2 linked regions of the Homo sapiens genome follow. The protein of the gene in region 1 purifies or fractionates together with the protein of each later gene. This does not show direct contact. Each region holds a gene or a part of one and is shown on either strand. Other genes may lie near its edges. The genes, in order: SPIN2A and PRDM7.

The links.
Region 2: the proteins of SPIN2A (region 1) and PRDM7 purify together in Homo sapiens (affinity purification with mass spectrometry; one large-scale study listed by BioGRID and IntAct). This does not show direct contact.

The regions. Positions count from the first base shown.
Region 1 is NC_000023.11:57,134,999-57,139,060, forward strand, and holds SPIN2A (spindlin-2A), read right to left. Parts: upstream 2,400-4,062; 5' UTR 2,262-2,399; exon of another isoform or gene 2,207-2,261; intron 2,144-2,206; exon of another isoform or gene 2,050-2,143; intron 1,879-2,049; exon of another isoform or gene 1,605-1,878; 5' UTR 1,600-1,604; coding exon 823-1,599; 3' UTR 652-822; downstream 1-651. UniProt on the Homo sapiens protein: May be involved in the regulation of cell cycle progression. Exhibits H3K4me3-binding activity.
Region 2 is NC_000016.10:90,055,820-90,060,399, forward strand, and holds the end of PRDM7 (histone-lysine N-methyltransferase PRDM7), read right to left. Parts: coding exon 4,522-4,580; intron 2,716-4,521; coding exon 2,470-2,715; 3' UTR 747-2,469; downstream 1-746. UniProt on the Homo sapiens protein: Histone methyltransferase that selectively methylates 'Lys-4' of dimethylated histone H3 (H3K4me2) to produce trimethylated 'Lys-4' histone H3 (H3K4me3). May play a role in epigenetic regulation of gene expression by defining an active chromatin state.

The sequences.
Region 1 (4,062 bases):
AAGAGCAATGTGGACACTACCAGAAGTCCAACATTTTCCTGGGCCTTCCGATCTCTCATGGGCCCCATACCCCACAACTCTTTTCCTGTATTCTCACTCCCTCTGTCAGTCTTTCTTCTTTGAATTCCTCCTTCCTCAGTGGCCCTCTTCTAATCCCTCCAACACCCTAACCCACATAGCCTCTTCCTTTGTGTATCCTTTAGCCTCTCCCAGATCCCTGTCAGGTTGATCCTTCTCCACCTTACTCTGGACCCTCTTCTAAGCTTCTTTGTGTTCCTCTCTACTCAGTTTATTCTATTTTCCTCTAAGCCCCAAGATCTCACTCTCCCTCTGTTAGTCTTCCTTCTGAGTTGGATGTTTCCTTCTCATAGGTCATCCCCTCCCCCAAGGAGCCCCTCCCTTTCTGGCCCTTTTCCACCTCTTCCTAAGCAGTCACCTCCTCCTCTCTCCCCAAGACAGCCAATCTCTTGTTCCTTCCCCTGCCCCCTCCAGACCAGACCAGCTAAATCCAGTGCCATTTTTAAATGACTGATTATGATTCTAGCTGAACTTTATTCACAGCCGAAATTGACAGCTGTTCGTTCCTTCCATGCCCCATCTACCAAACACACCCGAACTTTTCAACAAGACAAAGGGCTTACAGACAGCATGTCATGTATTCACAAATTTGTATTTTTTAGAGCAAAACAACAGTTAATGCTGGCAAAGATGTTTAGTTATCAGGGATTCCATAAGCTTTCAGTACACTGAAAGGCAACATTTTTTGCATGTCTACAAATTATACATTTGTTTCCACACATGTGCCAAATTTTACCCTAACAGTTAGGACTTTTTCACCAAATCGTAGACATAGATATGGAAATCATCATCAAACTTGATGAAATACACAGAGGGTTTGGTTTCCACTTGGTGAATGACCATGCCGATCCTTTTGGAGCCATCTTCTTTGGTATATTCCACATGCTTACCTATTAGGCCATCTACAACTCCTCCTGGCTCCCTCTCTGTTGGAGGAGACTCACTGGATTCTGGCATGATGCGGAGGTCACCTTCCTTATAATCATCTAGAAGCTGGTACATGTACAAGACAGGATCTTTCTCATAGGTAATATAAAACCAGGCTTTCATGATAGGTGCTTGAGCTAAGACCATCCCCCTCCATTCATCCTTAGAACCATGCTCTCCCTCAAACATGTGTTCCACTGCTTTGCCAATTATGGTATTTGCAAGGTTGGCATCACTAATGTGAGATGATGCCACCCTGTCAGAAAGAATTTTAAGAGACAAAACCCTTTCATCTCTGTGAAGTTCCAGTCCATAGACACAGTCAATTCCATCATATTTCACCAGATAAAGAGAGGGATTTATAGGCACCTGATCCAGAACGGTTCCTTTCCACTGCGTGATGGGCTCATCTCCTTCCTTCCATCCATGAGAAATTCTGCAGCCCACGATGTTCCTGCGGGGCTGGGATGAAGGTCGGCCTCTCTGCTTCTTTTGGGAGACTTTTTTCTTTGTCATGTTTGCAGACCCAGTGGCCCGTCCTGCAGCTGCCCTGGTTTGTTGCCCTTCGGCTTCCTGTGCGTTGGGGGTCTTCATGCCTGCTGGGGGAGGAGAGAGGATAGAGAGACACACCCAGTGTGCCACAAGGCAAACTTTTCCCTATAGCCATGTCTGGATGTAGTCTGCGCTAGTGCCTAAGTTTCCCCTAGGAGCCTGGAAGCAATGCTGGAAATCCTGGCTGCATGCCCGCAGTGCTCTCCCTCTTAAGTTCCTTTGGGCTGTGGGGAAGGGCTGGGGTGGTGCAGTAGAGCTGTCTGGGGTTAGGAACTCTGCAGAAGTGGCTGGGCCACCTCCTCCTAGCTCAGAGCCCACTGCCCTCCCTTTACCCTTTACTGCCACTAGCATCCACTCCCAATCCCCTGCAAAGCGGCCTTGACCAGCACCCACTACCCTCCTGCCCTGAGTGCCTCTGGTGCTGTCTGTAACCCCCACTGCCTATCCTAACCACTTCCCTGTTACCTACCTCCCTTGCTTCCTGGCGCTCACCTTCAAATCCTTGTCTGGCTCCTATTCCTACCCCCTTTCCCTGTCGTCCACCGCACTCCCCCACCCCACCCTTGCCTGGCGCCCAACTCCACCCCATGTCTCCTGCTGGATTCCTTCCCATCCCCCTCTCCATTCTGGCGCCCACTAATGGCCTTGCCCTGCCTGGCGTCCACCGCCGGGGATCGCGGGCCTCACGTGCCGAAATCGGATACCTCGATGCTGCCTCTGCTGTGAGCCTGTGGCGAAGGAGGGTCAACAGGCGACTCGCTGAGTGACTGCTTGCAAGAGCGGGGAGGGTAGGATCCATAGATGAGGAGCGTGTGTAGGAGCGCGGCGAGACAGGCAAAGAGCACTGCAGCGGTGTCCCCAGCGCTTCGCTCGCTGGCCGTCTACCTCCCTGTTGGTGGCGGCCACCCCTCAGCCACGTTGGGCTGCCACCAGTCCCTGATGCAGTGGCTGTAGTCTCTGCCCTTTTTCTGCACAAGACTACAGTGTTAGTTTCCTCTTAGTAGTGATGTCTTCCATTCTAATCACAGAGCAGATCTGCCTTTCTTTTCTTGGGGCCCCTCCTGGGCTCCTCCTTCCCTTTCCACAATTCACAACAGTGGAACCTGTAGGTGGCCTTTTCTCTCTTCCTGTCTCTGCTGGCTGGATCCTTCAAGCTCTCTAGCCCCTCCCCTCAGCTCTCTTGCTCCATCTGTTTTCCATCTTTCAGACATTTCTCACATTCTTTGGAAACATACAAATTAACATAGAAATACCATGTGTATACATTTATGGAGACATGAATCCTTTACGACCATATGCAAATGTGTATGTATGTATATATATATATATCTCCAAGCACATGCACATGTATAAAACTATGAATTCTGTGTACAGTTCCAGAAATTCCTATCCATAGATTCTTAATTCCAAATACACACCTCTATCCAATCACATAACTCACAGATATAATTCTCTGTATATGCATACACACTCACGAATACATACATTAAGTGTTTCTCCAAAGCATTATGTAGGCATATTTTAGATTTGGAGACCTTGCTTTGAAGAAGTATTGGCTTATTTTAAGCTTAAAGAGTTATTTTTGAATGTGATTACAATACTTAACAAACCTTATCTATTTCGCATAAAGTGAAGTCATTTTTAATTTTTGTGTGTTTTTTTGTGAGTTACAGTTTTTCACAGTATCCTATAATTCTGAAAATAATCAACAATATTAGATTGCTATATCAAGTAAGATGTTTTCAGTTACATGTTGTAGGACAACAAACCAAATGGGTGTACAATAAAAACAATATGTTGGCTAACATCTGAAAAGTTAAATAAGTGTTAGGTTAATCTTAATCTATGGTGGAATAATATTTTATTATATATATATATATATCACATTTTTTATCCATTTATTTATTGATGGACAGTTAAGTTGATTCCATATCTTGTCTATTGTGATCAGTGCTGCAAATAAATATGTGAGTGCAGATAGCTCGTTGATATGCTGATTTCCTTTCTTTTGGATATATACCCAATAGTGAGATTGCTGGATCTTAGGGAATTTGTAGTTTTAGTTTTTGGAGGAACTACCACGCTGTTTTTCATAATGGCTATGCTAATTTATATCCCCACGAGCAATTTACAAGGATACCTCTTTCTTCACTTCCTTACCAGCAGTTTTTATTTTCTGTCTTTTTGATAATAGCCATTTTAACTGGGGTAAGATGATATCTCATTGCTATTTTGATATACAATTACCTGATGATTAGCGATTTAGAATACTTTTTATATATCTGTTGTCCATTTGTGCGTCTTAGTTTGAGAAATGTCTACTCAGCTCTTTTGCCCATTTTTAAATCAGATTATTTGATTTTTTACTATTGAGTTGTTGGAATTTCTTACATATTTTTATTATTAATCCCGTCAGTTGAATACTTTGTAAATATTTTCTCTTGTTACCTAGGTTGTCTCTTCATTTTATGATTGTTTCCTTTGCTGTGCAGAAGCTTTTTAGCT
Region 2 (4,580 bases), on another chromosome or scaffold:
CATCGCCCTCCTCACTCTCTCTTGCTCCTGCTCCCACCATGTGAGATGTCTCCCTCCCCTTTGCCTTCTGCCATAACTGGAAGCTTGCCAAGGCCTTCCTACAAGCAGAAGCCACTATGCTTCCTATACAGCAGAGCCATGAGCCAACTAAACCTCTTTTCTTTATAAATTACCCAGCCTCAGGTGTTTCTCTATAGCAATGTGAAAATGGAATAATACAGAGGGCTTATGATTTTATTTTTACTTCTCAGATTATGTTTTAGTAGAAGAAAAGAGCTAAGTGAGCCTGGTGCGGTGGCTCACACCTGTAATCCCAGCACTTTGGGAGGCTGAGATGGGTGAATCACGAGGTCAGGCATTCGAGACCAGCCTGGCCAACATGGTGAAATGCCATCTCTACTGAAAATACAAAAAATTAGCAGGGTGTGGTGGTGGGTGACTGTAATCCCAGCTACTCTGGAGGCTGAGGCAGGAGAATCACTGAATGTAGGAGACGGAGGTTGCAGTGACCTGAGATCACACCACTGCACTCCAGCCTGGGGAACAGAGTGAGACTCTGTCTCAGAAAAAAAAAAAGAAAAGGAAAGAGAGCTAAGTGTAGCTGTGGCAGGCCAGGTCTCACTAACACCAGCCTCCATTACAACTGTCTCAGCACTGACTGAGTAGTTAGGTTAAATATTAAAAGCTAATTGAACCAGTGCTCTTGTAGCAGGATGAGCCGCAGACGAAACCCCTCAGACACAGAGTTAAAGAAGGAAGCGGTTTATTCGGCCAGGAGCATCAGCAAGACTGCTGTCTCAAGAGCCGAGCTCCCCGAGTGAGCAATTCCTGTCCCTTTTAAGGGCTCACAACTCTAAGGGGGTCCACGTGAGAGGGTCGTGATCGATTGAGCAAGCAGGGGGTAGGTGACAGGGGCTGCATGCACCGATGGTCAGAGTGGAACAGAACAGACCGGGAAGTTTCACAATGTCTTTCTATAATCTATAGATAACATCAGTTGCTAGGTCAGGGGTCGAATTTTAACTACCAGGCTTAGGTCAGGCCGGCCCAGGCCTGGTTTCGGGTCTGGTTCCTTGGTTTCAGGTCTGGTTCCTAGGCGCCAGGCTACCTGCCTTTAGTTTTGCTTCTTTTTCCTTTTCTGAGTATAAAACAATATAAAACAGTATGAGAGGGTCTGTCTCTCTTCTCTCAGAGTATTCAATTTCCTTAGGATTTTGAGCGTTATTCCTAATACACCCTTGAAACCCCCACACTCACACAGATACGTACACAGAGGGCACATACCCCCACACCCATGCATGCAGGCTTAACACACATAGCACACGTGAACACATATATACACACATGCGTGTTCCTGTCTGGCGTTCACTTCTGGGGCTACAGAGATTGGAGGAAATCAGGAGAGGAGACAGGGGGAGCCAAGGGGGAGTATGGCAGCAGAGGAGAGGGGTCCATTAGAAGAGGTCACACTTCCCAGGAGACCAGGGAGCTCTCTTTCCTGCTGCGACTCTGTAAAACCCTACATTTCTCTTCCTGGACTTGGGAATCGATTCTCCAATAATTAAACCAGATGGACTCCAAGTTTATGTCTTTCTGGGGTTGAATTCCTGTGGAGACTTGAACTGAACGTTTGAGTTCTCTGTGGCCCTTCTGGACTCTTCCTTCCTTCAGTGATAAGGGAAGAATGAGGTACACACTTGGGGTTCAGATATGTATGGAGACAAAATTAATTAGAACAGGAGGCAAAACACAAAAAATGGAGGGGATCAGTGCGGGAAACAACCACACATGTTGACGTCCCCCGAACACTTACAGAACTATCCCCTGTTCTTCCTCAACTCTAGTCATGAAAGTGGCGGATTTGTTTAATTAGTTATTTCCGATCTCTTTACACTCTCGGGGAATGTAAGGGGTTAGCAGACTTTCGCTGAAGCCACCTCAGAGCTGGGGTGTGCAAGTGTGTGGTGATCACGTTTGTCTTCTTGTGGCTATTGAGATAAGGTTTTATTACTAATGACTTACTCATCCTTCCTGCAGACTGGGGCGTCTCCCCTGTGTGTCCTCTGGTGAATGAGGAGGACTGACTTCCGGCTAAAGCCCCGCTCACACTCTCTGCAGACATAAGGCTTCTCCCCTGTGTGTGTCCTCTGGTGACTGAGGAGGTCTGACTTCCGGCTAAAGCCCTCCCACACTCTCTGCAGACGTAGGGCTTCCCCCCTGTGTGTGTCCTTTGGTGTGTAATAACATCTGACTTATCACTGAAACCTTGCCCACACTCTCCATATTTGACTTTCGCAATTCTTGAGATTCCTACCCCCACAAATAATTTGCCTGTGTTCCCTGGATTCACTTTCTGGCCTGTTCTGGACTCTTCTTCCATCATTCTTTCTCCCACTCTAGAGCTCCCCATTTGTCCTTTGGGTGGGCTAGAAAAGGCCCTTGAAATCTCCCTCTGCCATGTCCTTTTATTCAAGAGTTTGGACCTTTCTTTGATCTCTTGACCTTTGGTTTTGTCATTACAGCAGCGTGGATCAGAATATTGCCGCTCCTGATTCTGATCCCCTGGGCAGGGATTCTCTGGTTGGAGAAGTTTTCTTGCAGATGGTCCTGGGAAGTTCTGAGAGGAGTGATTGCGTTCCACATGTTGACTGAGAAATTTTTGACTTGAAAAGGCCAGACAGCATGAGGGACATGGATGGATCTCTGGCTTTGGTTCTGAAAGAGGAAGTTTTTGGTCAGGGTAGATGTTTTGTTCAGGCCTTACTACATATGAAGGTATGAAGATCAAATGAAGAACCAGTCATTCTTCATATGTTAACAATGCAAGCTCTCTCCCACCAAGTGCTGGATGGACCTTTACAGTCCATTTTTCCATTCCACTTTTATTCACTACATCTTAAAAAATCCAGAAATCCCACATCTTGGGCCTTTTCTACGTATCAGCCAGACTCTGGGTAACCTCAAGCAGCATCAGGGGCAGCATCATTCCTTACATAGATGGAACTGCAGTGACCTTTCCCCCATGCCACAGGTATCTTCCAAGTCCTGTAAAGCCTTCCCTGATCACCTCTGCCACATGCTCCCTCCCTGGGCCCTGGGCACTTTTGCGACGCGAGGTTTTCAGCTATTTTATTCTATTGAGAAATAACACTCTTGATGACTTAGGTGAGATTGTCCTTAGTGACTTCCTAAGAGGGGAAAAGGATCTATTAGGAGCACTCAGCCTGGAGATCCACAAATGTGGTTAAAGAGATGTGTTAGCAAATCTGAATTTGAGTATCCTCATTCAAAAGGACATATTTAATTGAGGACTGTTATGTGCCCGGTTCTCCATCAGGAAGTGTGATTCAGGTTGGCCAACACAGAGTGGTCCAGGTCCCACTGACTAAAGGACTGTGGGTCCTGCTGCGCCAACTAGGTGCATGGACTGCTTCTGTTTCAGATTCCACAAATCATAAAATGAGAATATGCTCTTTGTCAGGCTGCACATCAAGTATTCATGTCTGAGTTATTTCATTCAGTCTGAACCCATTTTAAATATAATAGGAAGTCTTGTTTCAAAATATATCCCTACTCAGGCTTACCGCCATGCTCCCCACCTTCATCCTGCCCACCATTTTCTCTCACTTGGAAACTGGAGCAGCTCTGAAGGGATGACCCATGGCAGCCTATTTTCCAAAAATGAACCAAAGCTGAACTCTTTCTGGCCTCAGGACCATTGCACTAGCTGCGCCCTGTGCCTGGAATCCTTGGCCCACAGGCACTTGCACTTCTCAAATGCTGTCTCCTAAGAGAAATCTTCCCTGACAATCCCCTGCAACACTCTACTGTCACCTCACACTGACCCCCAGGTCTCACACTGACCTCAGGTCTCACACTGACCCCCAGGTCTCACACTGACCTCAGCTCTCACACCGATCCCAGGTCTCACACTGATCCCAGGTATTCTTTCTGGATTCATTTTCTTCAAAGCACTAATCGCCGTCTGATATTACACATATGTCTGTGTGTATTCGTACGGTTCCCTAATTCACAAGTTATCTGTTCAAGAGCAGTTTTTTTGATTGTCTTCATCAGTCTGTATTTACACTTCCTGCAACATCGTCTGGCACAGAGTAGGAACTCACATGACAGCTAATTGAGATAATGAATGAATGAATAACAACATATGCGTATCATTAAGAAATATCAAGGAAATGCCAGAAGAAACTACCTTGTTGGGAGAGCTGGTAGGTGTTTGAGAACTTGATTTTTGTCTTTAAGTCTTTGAGCACTGTATGCTGTTATATACTTTGTGCATGAAGTACTTTGAATATAAAATCGGAACAAAGATTTAAAAATATAAAAACTGTTCCAAAGAGGCAAAGGCATATAACATGAATCTTTAATTTTGGAAGCCACTGATGTAAAATTTTACTGACTTTAGACGGCGTTTTACTCTACTTAAGAGTTCAATCATGAAAATTCTCTAGGATAATTCTTTCTTTCCTGTCCTTTTAAAAGAGTAATAGTGATGCCTACCTCTCCCTGCCATGAGCTCTTTCTTCCACTTGCTGCCCCACTTGATGCCCAGTTCCTGG